Linked DNA regions of Homo sapiens: region 1 is linked to region 2. The links come from fine-mapping of genetic effects on gene expression. Tissue or cell type: whole blood. Region 2 holds a variant in brackets; the other region holds the start of a gene. All regions are shown on one strand. Distances are between the middles of the regions.

The links. PIP is the estimated chance that this variant, and not a neighbour inherited with it, causes the effect.
Region 1: it holds the start of NAPA-AS1, and the variant in region 2 is fine-mapped to the expression of NAPA-AS1 in whole blood (TOPMed, PIP above 0.99).

What each region holds. Positions count from the first base shown.
Region 1 is chr19:47,481,843-47,488,132 of GRCh38, reverse strand. It overlaps NAPA-AS1 (NAPA antisense RNA 1), which reads right to left and starts at 3,851. Exons shown (of 4, transcript NR_038452.1): 1 at 3,609-3,851. KPTN (kaptin, actin binding protein) reads left to right here and starts at 3,914. Exons shown (of 12, transcript NM_007059.4): 1 at 3,914-4,198; 2 at 4,549-4,631; 3 at 4,754-4,838; 4 at 4,918-4,972. The coding sequence starts at 3,973. It overlaps NAPA (NSF attachment protein alpha), which reads left to right. Exons shown (of 11, transcript NM_003827.4): 11 at 1-496. RefSeq lists enhancers at 3,540-3,669, 3,700-3,989.
Region 2 is chr19:47,560,598-47,568,715 of GRCh38, reverse strand. The region is part of intron 2 of ZNF541 (zinc finger protein 541); the gene reads left to right. Among named protein-coding and RNA genes, the nearest start is that of ZNF541, 8.5 kb to the left of the region's middle. The variant T/G (reference allele first, on the strand shown) is at 3,877.

The DNA of each region.
Region 1 (6,290 bases), 80 kb after region 2:
AGAGGCCCAGGCTGCTGGCCGGACAGTCACCCTCTGTTCTCGCTACATCCCTTGCCCCCTGTCCATTTATTTAAGCCCCCATAGGTGCCCTTCACCCCCAAAACCAGCTGTACAGAATCTTTGATACAGACCTATTTGCTAGGGGTGCTGCCGGGGATTTGGGGTCAGCATCTGGCCCCCTATCTCCTGACCAGCTGAGTCATGAGGCCGGTTTCTCTCTCTCTCCCACTTTTGTCCCCCAGCCAAGCTCTAAAGCACATGTAGCCGCTGAGACCTGCTGTTTCTGCTGGGGGCAGGCTCCTCTTCCCCCAGCCCCGGGAGCCTCCCCCAGCTTCCTGCAGCCCCGACCTCTCAGGTTAGACCCTGGGCCCTGGAGCTTAGGGGATTCTCCCCACCCCAGCCCCACACCTGCTCCTTCCCTAATGCTTTGAGGTTTTCTTGGTTGGAAGCTGCAGCTGGCCCAAGAAAGAAAATAAAAAACAACACTTTTGCATGAGTCTCTCTTCCTCCTCACCTCTGCTACCCACTCTGCCCCTGGGCCAGTCACCAGTCCCTCTCACACTCCTGGTCCCCCAGACTCTGGGCGAGCTCTTGGGAGGTCAGGCGCATGCATCCTTGAAACACGTGTGGGCTGGGTCAGTTTCTAGGTGGGGGAGACCCAGGGACGGTGGGCCTGGGGAGGAGCTCTGGCTTGGGAGTCCCAGAGCGCCCATCTTGATCTTTCTCTGGGTTCTTGGGGTCCAGGGGCCTTGATTTCCTCAACTGGGATGCACGGTGGTGATGCCACCCCTCAGAGCCAGTGGGAGGGTCGAATGTGACGGTCCTCATGACTGCTTTGGATGAGAATGGGTGGAAGCCCACCGAATCTCCCATGTCCACATTTCTCTGGCAGGAAGGCTGAACGCCCCGGTGACAGTTGTTCCATCTGTCACAGGACGGGGGAGGAAGCGGCTTTGGTGGGCAGAGTCTGAGGCCCGAGTGGGTCTGGGGAGTGGGGGAGGAGATAGCAGGAGCCTTTGCCCAGGAAAGGTGGGCAGAAACCAGCTGCCTCCACCACACTCCACAATGTGCATGTTGGGGGCCCTGTCTGGTACACATGTGCTTTACCCTGCCCCGCGCAGGGCCCCTCGCTACAGAGGAGACAGCTGAAGGAGGCTCAGTGCCCAGGCATGATGGGAAAATGTCAGGAAGTGAGCAGGGGCAGTAATTGCACAGAGGAGGGGCTGCCTAGGAAACCAGGGTGGACTCCTGGGAGAGGGGCTCCAGCCCAGAAAGCCTAGAGAAGTGCAGGTGAGGTTCAAATTCCTTGACACCTGCCCTGCTCCTCTCTCCCCTGCAGCTTCTCCCACAGCTCCAGTCCACTGATAATGGCAGCAAAGACTTCTGAGACCTGAAATTGATTACCATGTCTGCCCCCATCATGGGTGCTGGCTGAAGGATAGTGTGAGAATCTGTTTCTGTCATCCATGACCTAAATCAGTGATGGTCCGCCCTGGCTATGCTTTAAAGTCATTAAAAGTATCCAGACTTGGGGCTGGGTGCTGTGGCTCATGCCTGTAATCGTAGCACTTTGGGAGGCCGAGGCAGGCGGATCACTTGAGGTCAAGAGTTCGAGAGCAGCCTAGCCAACATGGCAAAACCCTGTCTCTGCTAGAAATACAAAAATTAGGCATGATGGTGCAAAAATAAAAGTATCCAGACTGGGGCCGCACTCTGATAAATTGTGGTTTGACTGAGGTTTCCTACCCTTTGGGGGTTTTTGGGTTTGTTTTTTTTTTGAGACAGAGTCTCGCTCTATCGCCCAGGCTGGAGTGCAGTGGTGCGATCTTGGTTCACTGCAACCTCTGCCTCCCGGGTTCAAGCGATTCTCCTGCCTCAGTCTCCCGAGTAGCTGGGATTACAAGCGTGCGCCACCACGCCCAGCTAATTTTTGTATTTTTAGCAGAGACAGCGTTTCACCATGTTGGCCAGGCTGGTCTCAAACTCCTGACCTCAGTTGATCCGCCTGCCTCAGCTTCCAAAGTTCTGGAATTACAGGCATGAGCCACCAGGCCCGGCCTGTTTTGGTTTGTTTTGTTAAAACTTCATAGGCAGTTCAAGTGTGCAGCTAGGATTGGAAACCTCTTAACAGGATGATTCCTTCCTAACCTGTAACTTCATTTTTTCATTCATCCGCTCAACATGTGGCTTATAGGTTACTAGGGCGGGAAGACGCCTGAAGGAAACGCACTGCTGAAGTGGCACTAGACCCACGTGCCACTCCCTCAGCGAATATTCACTAAGCACCTGCTGCATGCCAGGCCCTGGGAATACAGCAGCACTGACGGCATTCCCAGACTGCCCTCCAGGAACTTCTACTCTCCACATCCAGAAATCTGGAATCATCACAAATTCCTTGCCACCTCCGTTATCCAGTCTGCCTTTGAGAACTTTCCATCATGTAAGAGCTGTCTCTTACATGCTCAGCACATAGTTTGTGATTTTTGACACATATTTTCTGAATGCCTGCTTTGTGTCAGGCCTTGTGTTCCAGGTACAGGCGATAAGGCCGTGATCAAGGGAGATCAGCCTGCTGCCTTCATGGAGCTTGCAGTCTGTGTGTGCTCGAGGTGTCCAGGACAGCTGGCCAACCCATGTCTTCTGGAAATGATACACAGATGTGCACATAGTACCCAAACCTCCATGGCCTTCTAGGGACAAAGCAGCACAGACAGGAACCCCTGAAGGCCCCAGAGTCGGAAACACCTGGTTTACATCCTGTCCCCACCACTTGCTAGCATATCAGTCAGTGGACTTACTCTTTCTGAGCCTCCATTTGATTCTCTCTAAACTGGGATAATAAACCTCTTTGTAGAGGTTTCTTTCTTGCAAAGATTAGTGAGACAGATTTGCAAAGGACGTCCGGGCACATAGTAAAAGCTCAATGAATCCTGAATAAGTGAACCGGCAGGGAGGGTAACAGTAGGCCCTTGCAGAACAGTTGTAAGGAATCAGATTATCAGAGCCAGCATGACTGTCACCAAGTAGGTGTTCGATAAAGGAGGTGGTTATTATAGCTGGATCATTTTTCCTTGGGGGCAAGAAGAATGTATTAATTATTTTAAAGGTGATACTGTTAAGATTATGAACTATAGGCCGGGCAAGGGGGCTCACGCCTATAATCCTAGCACTTTGGGAGGCCGAGGTGGGCGGATCACCTGAGGTCAGGAGGTCCAGACCAGCCTGGGCAACATGGCGAAACCCCATCTCTACTAAAAATAGAAAAACTAGCCAGGTGTGGTGGCGCCTGTAATCCCAGCTGCTGGGAGGCTGAGGCAGGAGAATCGCTTGAACCCAGGAGGCAGAGGTTGCAGTGAGCCGAGATCGCACCACTGCACTCCAGGGTGACAGAGCAAGACTCCGTCTCAAAAAAAAAAAAAAAAAAAATAGTGAACTGTGGAGTTACCTTGTTTGGTTTCCAGTACTGACCGCTCGTTACTAGCTGTGTGATCTTAGGCAAGTTACTTTACCCCTCTGTGCCTCAATTCCTTCATCTCTAAAATGGATTTAAGTACCTACCTCCACCCCCTTGCGAATTTTTAATAAAGTATTAGATGGAATGCACTTACAGTAGTTCCTGGCACATAAGGGCAATATTAAGTTTTATGATGATGATGATTCGACCTTCCACACAGCATACAGCGAGAGGCCGTGGCCACCACCTCCCATCTCTAGTCACAGACTCCTTATGGCAGCCCCTTGGTCCAGAAATGGAAAGGAGAAGAGAGCGCGGGCGCAGTGGGGCAAAGTCGCCTGGGAGGCCCGAGCAGGCGACCTGGCCGCCATCTTGGGAGAGGGCAACGCCGGCAGCTTCCGTACGTCATCAGCCCGCGCAACGGCCGGGCACCCGGCGGTTCAGGTCGCTTAGAGAGTCGTAGGTTGGGTAGTGCGGGTTGGGGCGGGGGCTGCGGAGAGGGTGCTTAACTGAGGGGCATGATGGGGGAGGCGGCCGTGGCCGCGGGGCCTTGTCCGTTGCGCGAGGACAGCTTCACGCGCTTCTCGTCGCAGAGCAATGTGTACGGGCTGGCAGGCGGCGCCGGCGGGCGCGGGGAGCTGCTGGCCGCCACCCTTAAAGGCAAGGTGCTCGGCTTCCGCTACCAAGACCTCCGACAGAAAATCCGGCCAGTGGCCAAGGAGCTGCAGTTCAACTACATTCCCGGTGGGTGGCGCTATGGTGCTGGGGGGCGGGGGCCTGGAACGTGGTGTTGAGAAGGCTTCTGAGGCTCTGTCTGAGCCGGGTCACCGTGCTGGAAGAATGGGATCAGGTGGTTTTAAGGGGGTCACTGGGATCAGCGGGCAGGCATAGTTGGGGCCCGGATGAGCCTAGGGTTTCAGGATTCTTCAGACTTACAGGTCAGGATCCCTAGTACCCAGGGAACAGAGATCAGGTGATGGTGGTCAGGACTCAGACCAGAGGGCATGATCATTGCGGTAGCCAGAGCTCACCATGTTGGGGAGATTGGAAGCATGAGTCTGCCTGACACTGAACTTAGAACTCTCCCCTCCCAGTGGATGCGGAGATTGTCTCCATCGACACTTTCAACAAGTCACCCCCCAAGCGGGGTCTGGTTGTGGGGATCACGTTCATCAAGGTACCTAGAGCCCCCTCCACCTCCCTTCGCCCTCCTCCTTACACACATGGTGAGTTCCACTGAGCCGCCCCGGATCCCTCCTGCCACCCCTGCCCTCCCCTGAACCCCGTGTCCTCCGCCAGGATTCAGGGGACAAGGGCAGCCCCTTCCTGAACATTTACTGCGACTACGAGCCCGGCTCTGAGTACAACCTTGACTCTATTGCCCGTGAGTGAGGCGTGGACGGGAGGAGGGAGAGAGTCCCCAGCAGGTCCCCCATGCTAACCTGCCTGTGCCCTGCCTACAGAGAGCTGCCTGAACCTGGAGCTCCAGTTCACTCCGTTCCAGCTGTGCCATGCGGAGTGAGTGTCCCCTGCGCATCGACGCCCACTCCACTGTAAATGTAGAAACCCTGGCTTCTCGAACCCCTTCTTTACTTACAGACCCCTGTAGTCTGTTTCCCCTTCTGGAAAATAAAGAGGTTGTACTAGATTAGGGATTGAAAACTAAAATGCCAGCCGGGCACGGTGGCTCACACCTGTAATCCCAGCACTTTGAGAGGCTGAGGCAGACGGATCACCTGAGGTCAGGAGTTTGAGACCAGCCTGGCCAACATGGCGAAACCCCGTCTCTACTAAAAATACAAAAATTAGCTGGGCATGGTGGTGTGTGCCTGTAATCCCAGCCTACTCAGGAGGCTGAGGCAGGAGAATCACTTGAACCCGGGAGGCGGAGGTTGCAGTGAGCCAAGATTGCACCACAGCACTCCAACCTGGGTGACAAGAGCGAAACTCTGTCTCAAAAATAAATAAATAAAATAAAATGAAATTAAACTAAAATGCCTTTGGGGACCAGAGAGGTCATGTGAGAATGGAAAGCACAAATGTAATATAACAGGGAGCACATGTGCACACACACATATGCAGCTGAGGTTGGAAAGCTGTAGCTAACTGGAGACCACGAACTTGTCCATAGACAATCAGATTCTACATTTGTTTTTTAAAGCATTGCACTTTTTTTTTCTTTCTTTTTTTTTTTTTTTGAGATAGATGCTCGCTCTGTTGCCAGGCTGGAGTGCAGTGGCTCGATCTCTGCAACCTCTACCTCCCTGGTTCAAGTGATTCTACTGCCTCAGCCTCCTGAGTAGCTAGGATTACAGGCTCACACCACCATGCCCGGCTAATTTTTGTATTTTTAGTATAGATAGGTTTTTGCCATGTTGGCCAGGCTAGTCTCGAACTCCTGACCTCAGGTGATCCGCCCGCCTTGGCCTCCCAAAGTGCTGGGATTACAGGCGTGAGCCACCACGCCTGGCCGGAGCATCATGCTTTTAAGGTGGCCATGGACCGGATGGCCAAGGGGCCACCACACTGCCATTCCTGAACTAGATAATCTGAGAGAGTTGATGGAGCACCTGTGAATTCTGGGAATTCTGCACATCTAGAATTCCCAGATTCTAATGTTCTAGAGTCTGACATTCCAAGATCAGAGATGCTAAGTTTTCTAGAGTCGTAGGCTCTAAGATTCCAACATTTGAATATTCTACAGTACGATAGAAGCCAGAATCTTCTGAGGTTCTGTAATGATAAAGTCCTGACATTCTCATCTTTCGAGGAGATAGAACATAGAGCATCTAGAATACCAAGGTGCTAGAACCCCAAAGTGTGTGGGTTCCATTCT
Region 2 (8,118 bases):
GAGTGACAGAGAGAGACTTCAACTCAGGAAAACAAAAAAAATTGGAGTAGGAAAGTAAGGAAGGAAATTGCAGGCCGGGTGCAGTGGCTTGCACCTGTAATACCAGCACTTTGGGAGGCTGAGGCAGGTGGATTGCTTGACGGCAGGAGGTCGAGGCCAGCCTGGCCAACATGGCAAAACCCTGTCTCTATTAAAAATACAAAAATTAGCCAGGTGTGGTGGCACATGCTTGTAAACCCAGCTACTCGGGTGGCTGAGATGGGAGAATCGCTTGAATCCGCGAGGTGGAGGTTCAGTGAGCCGAGATCACGCCACTGCACTCCAGTCTGGGCGACAGAGTAAGACCCTGTCTCAAAAAATAAAATAAAATAAAATGAAGGAAATTGCATAGCTAGGGTGAAAGCTGCAAGTCTGTCTGCTCAACTCCCAGGAACCTGCTGTTACTCAGACTTGATGACCCTTTCCCTGGTAACATGGATGCAGGGAGAGAAGGGAGAAGGTGGTGCTTAGGAGGTGGGGGGTGTGGTGGCAGAACAGTGGTTGGAGCTTTTCAAAGAGGAAAAGAGGTGGCACAATGGAATTCTGTCACTCATGAATGAAAAGGATGCTCAGAGCCTTCTGTGATCAAAGTTCTGTGCTAGGCAAGATACTGTGAGAAGTTTAGACACCTAAGGCCGAGTCCCAGCCATCCTAGAGCTGAGAGTCTGGAGAAAATGGGAGAACTTTAAAGATAATTAACTTCCTAGATAATTTAGAGTAAATGTTAAGTGGATTGTTACACAAGTGCTTGTCAGGGTTCAGAGGAGGGAGAAATTAATCTCAGACTTTGTTATGTTGGAAGTGTTCTCTATAGTGGAGGTGACATTTAAGCCTGAGTTTGGAGGGTTTCATTTGGAGGGTCATAAACTCAGATGCCTCCAGAGGCCTGGCAGGGCACAGAAATCAGTGAGCTGAGAGAATAGGGAGTGGTGGGGGCTTCTCACCTCCAACCAATTGTTGCCTTGCAGGAATGTGGACTCAGCATTGGCAGATCTTCTGATTTTTTCTTTCACATTTTTAAATAGAAGTTGGAAAGCCTAACTTGAATGAGAAATCCCTAGATTTGCACCATCTGATATGGTAGCCATTAGCCGCTTGTACCTGTTTAAATTTAACTGGCCAGGCGCGGTGGCGCACGCCTGTAATCCCAGCGCTTTGGGAAGCCGAGGAGGGCGGATCATTTGAGGTAAGGAGTTCGAGACCCAGCTTAGCCAACATGGTGAAACCCCATCTCTACTAAAAATACAAAAATTAGCTGGGCATGATGGCGGGCGCCTGTAATCCCCAGCTACTCAGGAGGCTGAGGCAGGAGAATCACTTGAGCCCAGGAGGTGGAGGTTGCAGTGAACTGAGATTGCACCACTACACTCCAGCCTGGGTGACACAGTGAGACTCTGTCTCTAAATAAATAAATAAATAAATAAATTTAACTAAACTTAAATAAAATAAAGAGTTTAGTTCCTCAAGGGTGTTAGCTGCATTTCTGTGTATGTGGCTAAAGACTGCAGTATTGGGCAGTGCAGGCTTAGTAGCACAGAAAGTGCTTTTGGATAGTGATGCTCTAGTGCTCTATCCATCTATTTTTCTATTATTTATTTTATTTTATTTATTTATTTATTTATTTTTGAGATGGAGTCTCGCTCTGTGGCCCAGGCTGGAGTGCAGCGGCCTGATCTTGGCTCACTGCAAGCTCCGCCTCCCGGGTTCATGCCATTCTCCTGCCTCAGCCTCCCGAGTAGCTGGGACTACAGGCACCCGCCACCACGCCTGGCTAATTTTTTGTATTTTTAGTAAAGACGGGGTTTCACCATGTTAGCCAGGATGGTCTCAATCTCCTGACCTTGTGATCCGCCCGCCTCAGCCTCCCAAAGTGCTGGGATTACAGGTGTGAGCCACCGCACCTGGCCTTATTTTATTTATTTATTTATTTTTGAGATGGAGTCTGGCTTTGTCACCAGGATGGAGTGCAGTGGCATGATCTTGGCTCACTGCAACCTCCGCCTCCCAAGTTCAAGCAATTCTCCTGCCTCAGCCTCCTGAGTAGCTGGTACTACAGGTGAGTGCCACTATGCCGAGCTAATTTTTGTAGTTTTGGTAGAGATGGGGTTTCACTATATTGGTCAGGCTGGTCTTGAACTCCTGACCTCAGGTGATCTGCCTGCCTCAGCTGTCCAAAGTGGTGGGATTATAGGTGTGAGCCACCATACCTGGCCCCATCTATTCTTTAACTGGATAACTAATGGAAACATATTTAAATATATTGCAGACTAAATAAAATATATTTGTAAATCAGATGGGCATTCAGATTGTTCCCTCCCCTCCAAACAACACACATAGTAAATATTATTTATCTATTGTGGACTTACTTCTACAGTCTAGAATCTCATGGTAGGTTACCTTCCCAAAAGGTCGTAGCATTTCATAGAAGAATCCTTTGTTTCCCCTCACCCCCACCAGTCATGGAATGATGGCCCCTTTAAATTTTATTTTATTTTTTTTTGAGATGGAGTCTCACTCTGTCACCCAGGCTGGAGTGCAGTGGCACAATCTTGGCTCACTGCAACCTCCGCCTCCCGGGTCCAAGAGATTCTTGGGCCTCAGCCTCCTGAGTAGCTGGGGTTACAGGCACCCACCACCATGCGCGGCTAATTTTTGTATTTTTAGTAGAGACGGGGTTTCGCCATGTTGGCCAGTCTGGTCTCGAACTCCTGACCTCAAGTGATCCGCACACCTCAGCTTCCCAAAATGCTGGGATTACAGACGTGAGCCACTGCGCTGGGCTGATAGCATTTTTTTAAAAGAAAAAAAATTAAAATTGCTTCGGATCCCCAATGTTGACTTAAATTGTTTTAAAACTATTAAGGCATCAGTGATGATAGAACAAGACATAAGTTCCTAAAGTGTATAGCTCCTGTGCAGCTATAAAGCCAAAATCAATTTGCAAATTAAATATAAACAAAGCAACCAAACCGATTTAATTTAATGAGAGGGATACCATTTCCTGAAACTTACCTGCTCCTTGAAACAATTACTTTGCCGACTGCCACTCTGGGCCCTTTTGGGTTTAGCAGGCCCTGTGAGGTCTCAATTCTCCCATCCCTTGTCTCAATTTGAACTGCAGCAAAACTTCCATTTGTACCGTGATGCCAGCTGGCCTCTAGTAGAGCCCGAAGGCATTATTATGAACTAAATCCCCCTCCATCCTCTTCTTTTTAGCCTGAAGCAATTAAGTAGTCCTTTTTGGCATGAGTGCAATCATAAACACACCCAGGCATTGAAACCACATGGTAGTACTCGGTTACAAGGGAGTCCTCTAATGATCCAGATGTACTGGGTTTTTCTTTTCTTTTTTCTTTTTTTAGTTTTTTATTTCCATAGATTTTGGGGGAACAGGTGGTACTCGGTTATATGAGTAAGTTCTTTAGTGGTGATTTGTAAGATTTTAGTGTACCCATCACCCAAGCAGTATACATTGAACCCAATTTGTAGTCTTTTATCCCTCATCCCCTCCCACCCTTTCCCCCCAAGTCCCCAAAGTCCATTGTATCATTCTTATGCCTTTAATCCTCATAGCTTAGCTCTCACTTACAAAGTGAGAACATACGATGTTTGATTTTCCATTCCTGAGTTACTTCACTTAGAAGAATAATAGTCTCCAGTTCAATCCAGGTTGCTGTGAATGCCATTATTTCGTTCCTTTTTATGGCTGAGTAGTATTCCATCATATATATATTTCTTTATCCACTCCTTGATTGATGGTGGGCATTTGGGCTGGTTCCGTATTTTTGGAATTGCAAATTATGCTGCTCTAAACATGCATGTGCAAGTATCTTTTTC[T/G]TATAATGACTTCTTTTCCTCTGGGTAGATACCCAGGAGTGAGATTGCTGGATCAAATGGTAGTTCCACTTTTTGTTCTTTAAGGAATGTCCACACTGTTTTCTATAGTGGCTGTACTAGTTTACATTCCCACCAGCAGTGTAGAAAGGTTTCTTGTTCACCGCATCCATGCCAACATCTGTTATTTTTTTATTTTTTGATTACGGCCATTCTTGCAGGAGTAAGGTGGTATCCCATTGTGGTTCTGATTTGCATTTCCCTGATCGTTAGTGATGTTGAGCATTTAAATGAAAACACAAAATGATAAAATTCTTGGAAAGAGTATTTGGGTCCTTGGGAATGTCTGCCGGGTTGCAGGAGACCATAAACTCTGCCTCGTAAGGGCTAGCAGAGAGTTTTGTACCTAGAAGGTGCTAAAACTCTTGTTGAATTGAATGTATTTGTTGACAGAATAAAAGGAAGCTCAGTATCGGTAGAGAGGGTTTTGCTTTACTGTCTGGAGAAGGATGTAAATATCAAGGCATGGCCTTTGGACTTTTGGCTTGCCTGTCTGAGGTTGTAACCTGACCAGTTTGTTCTGTGGACTATGGGAGTATATTGGAAAGCAGGTGATTTGGCCTTGGGGAGTCCAGAGACATTCTTCCCCCTGACCCAGCACCTTATGTGTTTTGTAGTTTAATTGGAGCAGTGCAGTATACAGTTCAGTTTATAGGGAATCAGTACTGTGTAATGGGCAAGACCATTAGCGCTAATGTCAGAGTATCTGGGTTTAAGATCTGGCTGTTGGGTTTTGACTTTGGACAAATTAGTCTCTCTTATTTGTAAAAGGGAAGTAATACTACAATCTAGGTTTTTGTGAGAAGTAAGTTAATGCATATAAAGCACTTGGTATGATACCCGATGTGGAGAAAGTGCTTAATAAATACGATTTTTAGGCCAGGCGCGGGGGCTTATGCCTGTAATCCCAGCACTTTGGGAGGCCGAGGCGGGTGGATCACCTGAGGTCAGGAGTTTGAGACCAGCCTGACCAGCGTGGTGAAACCCTATCTCTACTAAAAGTACAAAAATTTGCCAGGCGTGGTGGTGAGTGCCTGTAATCCCAGGTACTGGGAGGCTGAGACAAGAGAATTGCTTGAACCCAGGAGGCAGAGGTTGCAGTGAGCCGAGATTGCACCACTGCACTCTAGCCTAGGGGACACAGCAAGACTTCGTCTCAAAAAATATATATGTGATTTTTATTCACTTGTTTTTATTATTGGGAGATGCAGGGGGAGATGGGTTTTTCCCCTCATAGAGTGGTGAAAACAGTTTATAGCAGCACTGTAGCAGACACTGTGGAACTGGTGAAATTTGAATTTGGCTTACAGATCCACACTCCTCTCCCTGATTTTTTGGAAACCCAAAAAGCTCTGAGAATCCTGAGGCATCTCGAATATCATCTGGTGGCCAAACCTGACCCTACATGTTGCTTTTCACAGCCTTTATTTCACGTACGCTGAGTGGTCATAGGCAATGATGCAGAAATAATTATTTGGTTACCAGGTACTGCCTTGAACCCCACTGGAAGTTACTTAAAATACGGGGTATGCATTGATTTACACTTCTAAAACCCCCTCAAATTCTGAAACTCAGTTGGGTCTCAGAGTTGTATATGGGATTACGTACCTGTATGTGACTTTAAATTTGTGCTGCCTCAATAGGCTGCATACACGCAGACAGGCAGGTAGACATATAACATGCAATGCAGACATTGCAGGTGCAGAGGTTCTATTACATATCAACATGAAAAGTTCTTAGAAAGTAGAAACTGGTGGCCTAGAAATCTAGTCCCAAACTCCCGTTATTCAAGTATGCACTAGATTTGTTATTCAGTGAGTCATGAAGCATTTCTTTAACATCTAGGTGTGAGCAGAATTATTCACAATAGCCCCCAAATGGAAGTAACCCAAATGTTCATCAACAGGAGAGTGGTTAAACAAAATGTGGTCTCTCCAGACAGGGGAACATTATTTAGCCCTGGAAAGAAATGGAGCAGTGACACGTGCTGCAATGGGGGTGAACCTTGAAAACACTGTGCTTAGTGAAAGAAGCCAGACACAGAAGGCCACAGGTCATCTGATTCCATTTGTGTGAGACAGATGGCCATCTGAAGGGGCTATGCTTTTTTGTTTTCATGACTCATAATTTTTTGCTGAAAAACTCGATCTCTCATTTTTCTCAAGCTTCCATGATTCGAAAACTGGACATTTTATCTGTTTGGTTTTTTTTGTTTTGTTTTTTGTTTTTAGTTTTTTTTGAAATGGAGTCTCAGTCTGTCACCCAGGCTGGAGTGCAGTGGCACAATCTCAACTCACTGCAGACTCCATCTCCCGGGTTCAAGCGATTCTCCTGCCTCAGCTTCCTGAGTAGCTGGCATTACAGGCACACACCACCACGCCCAGCTAATTTTTGTATTTTTAGTAGAGATGGCGTTTCACCATGTTGGCCAGGCTGGTCTTGAACTCCTGACCTCAAGTGATCCGCCCTCCCGGACCTCCCAAAGTGCAGGGGTTACAGGCATGAGCCAGCGCGCCTGGCCTGTTTTTGTTTTTTTTGGGGAGACAGTCTCTGTCGCCCAGGCTGGAGTGCAGTGGCACGATCTTGGCTCACTGCAGCCTCCACCTCCCGAGTTCAAGCGATTCTCCTGCCTCAGCCTCCCGTGTAGCTGGGATTGCAGGTGCCTGCCACCACAGCCAGCTAATTTTTATATTTTTAGTAGGGACGGGGGTTCGCCATGTTGGCCAGGCCAGTCTTGAACTCCTGACCTCAGGTGATCCACCCGCCTCGGCCTCCCAAAATGCTGGGATTACAGGCGTGAGCCACTGCACCCAGCCTGTAAACTGGATATTTTGCATATTGCAGTCTGGTAACTCTGGGAATGGGATTCTTCCTTTCTTCCCTGTCCTCAGGCTTGGTTGTTTCTGCTTATTGTGGGTTGTAACTGTTTGTTTAGTGGCTTTTCTAAGCTATTTTTGTAAAGATTGTGTTCTTTGTGGGGTGTGGTCAGTAGTCTGTTCTGTTAGTTTAGTGGTCAGCTAGTGACTTAACAGAGATCTTCTTAAACTCCTGGAGCTAAAAAAAAAACAAAACAGAAAACAAAAAACAAAAAGCTCCCAGTAGTTGCAGCGGGGCACTGCTTCCACACTCAGGCAGGCGGTTAACAACCCTACCTTCGCCTTCACTCTCTGCCTGCACAGAGCGAAGGTCAGCCAGAGGTGAGAGCTTGGAAGCCTTCTCTGGTCCTTTCCAAACATGTGCCCACCCTGAGATGCCACCTTCTAAATTCCCAGGAATATGTGGAAGCTCTTTTTTTATTCATTTGGATTTTTTAATTTTTTTAATACTTAATTAATTAATTATTTTGAGACAGGGTATCACTTTGTTGCCCAGGCTGGAGTGCAGTGGCGCAATCATAGCTCAATGAAGCCTCCAATTCTTGGGCTCAAGCGATTCACCCTCCTCAGCCTCCCAAGTAGCTGAAACCACAAGCATGTGCCACCATGCCCAGCTAATTAAAAAAAAATTTTTTTTCATAGAGACAGGGTCTGACTTTGTCAAACTCCTGGGCCAAAGTGCTGGGATTACAGGTGTGAGCCACCACACCCAGCCAGAGCTCAGTCTCTGTGTTGTATAGTTCTGTGGGTTTTGACTATGGTATAATGTCAGGTATGCAGCATTAGATTATCATGCAAAATAGTTTCACTCCTCACCCCACAAACCACACAACTGCTGGTCTTTTTATTGTCTCTATAGTTTTGCCTTTTCCAGAATGTGATATAGTTGGAGTCTCACAGTATGTAGTCTTGTCTTTCTTTTTTTTCGGTATGTAATCTTTTCATACTGGCTTCCTTCACTTAGCAATGTGCATTTAAGGTTCCTCCATGTCATTGTGTGGTTTGATAGCTTATTGCTTTTTATTCCTGAAGAACATTCCATTGTCTGGATGTTCCACAGTTTGTTGATCCATTCACCTATTGAGGGATGTCTTGATTGCTTCCAGTTTTGGGCAGTTATGAACAAAGCTGCTATAAACATGTGTGTGCAGGCTTTTGTGTGGACTGAAGTTTTCAGCTCAGTTGGATGGATGCCTAAGAGTGTAGTTGCTGGATTGCATGATAAGATTTTATACATATATATATTACAATCATCAAATAGATGCAGAAAAAAACTATGTGTAGCTTTATAAGAAACTGCCAGTGTGGA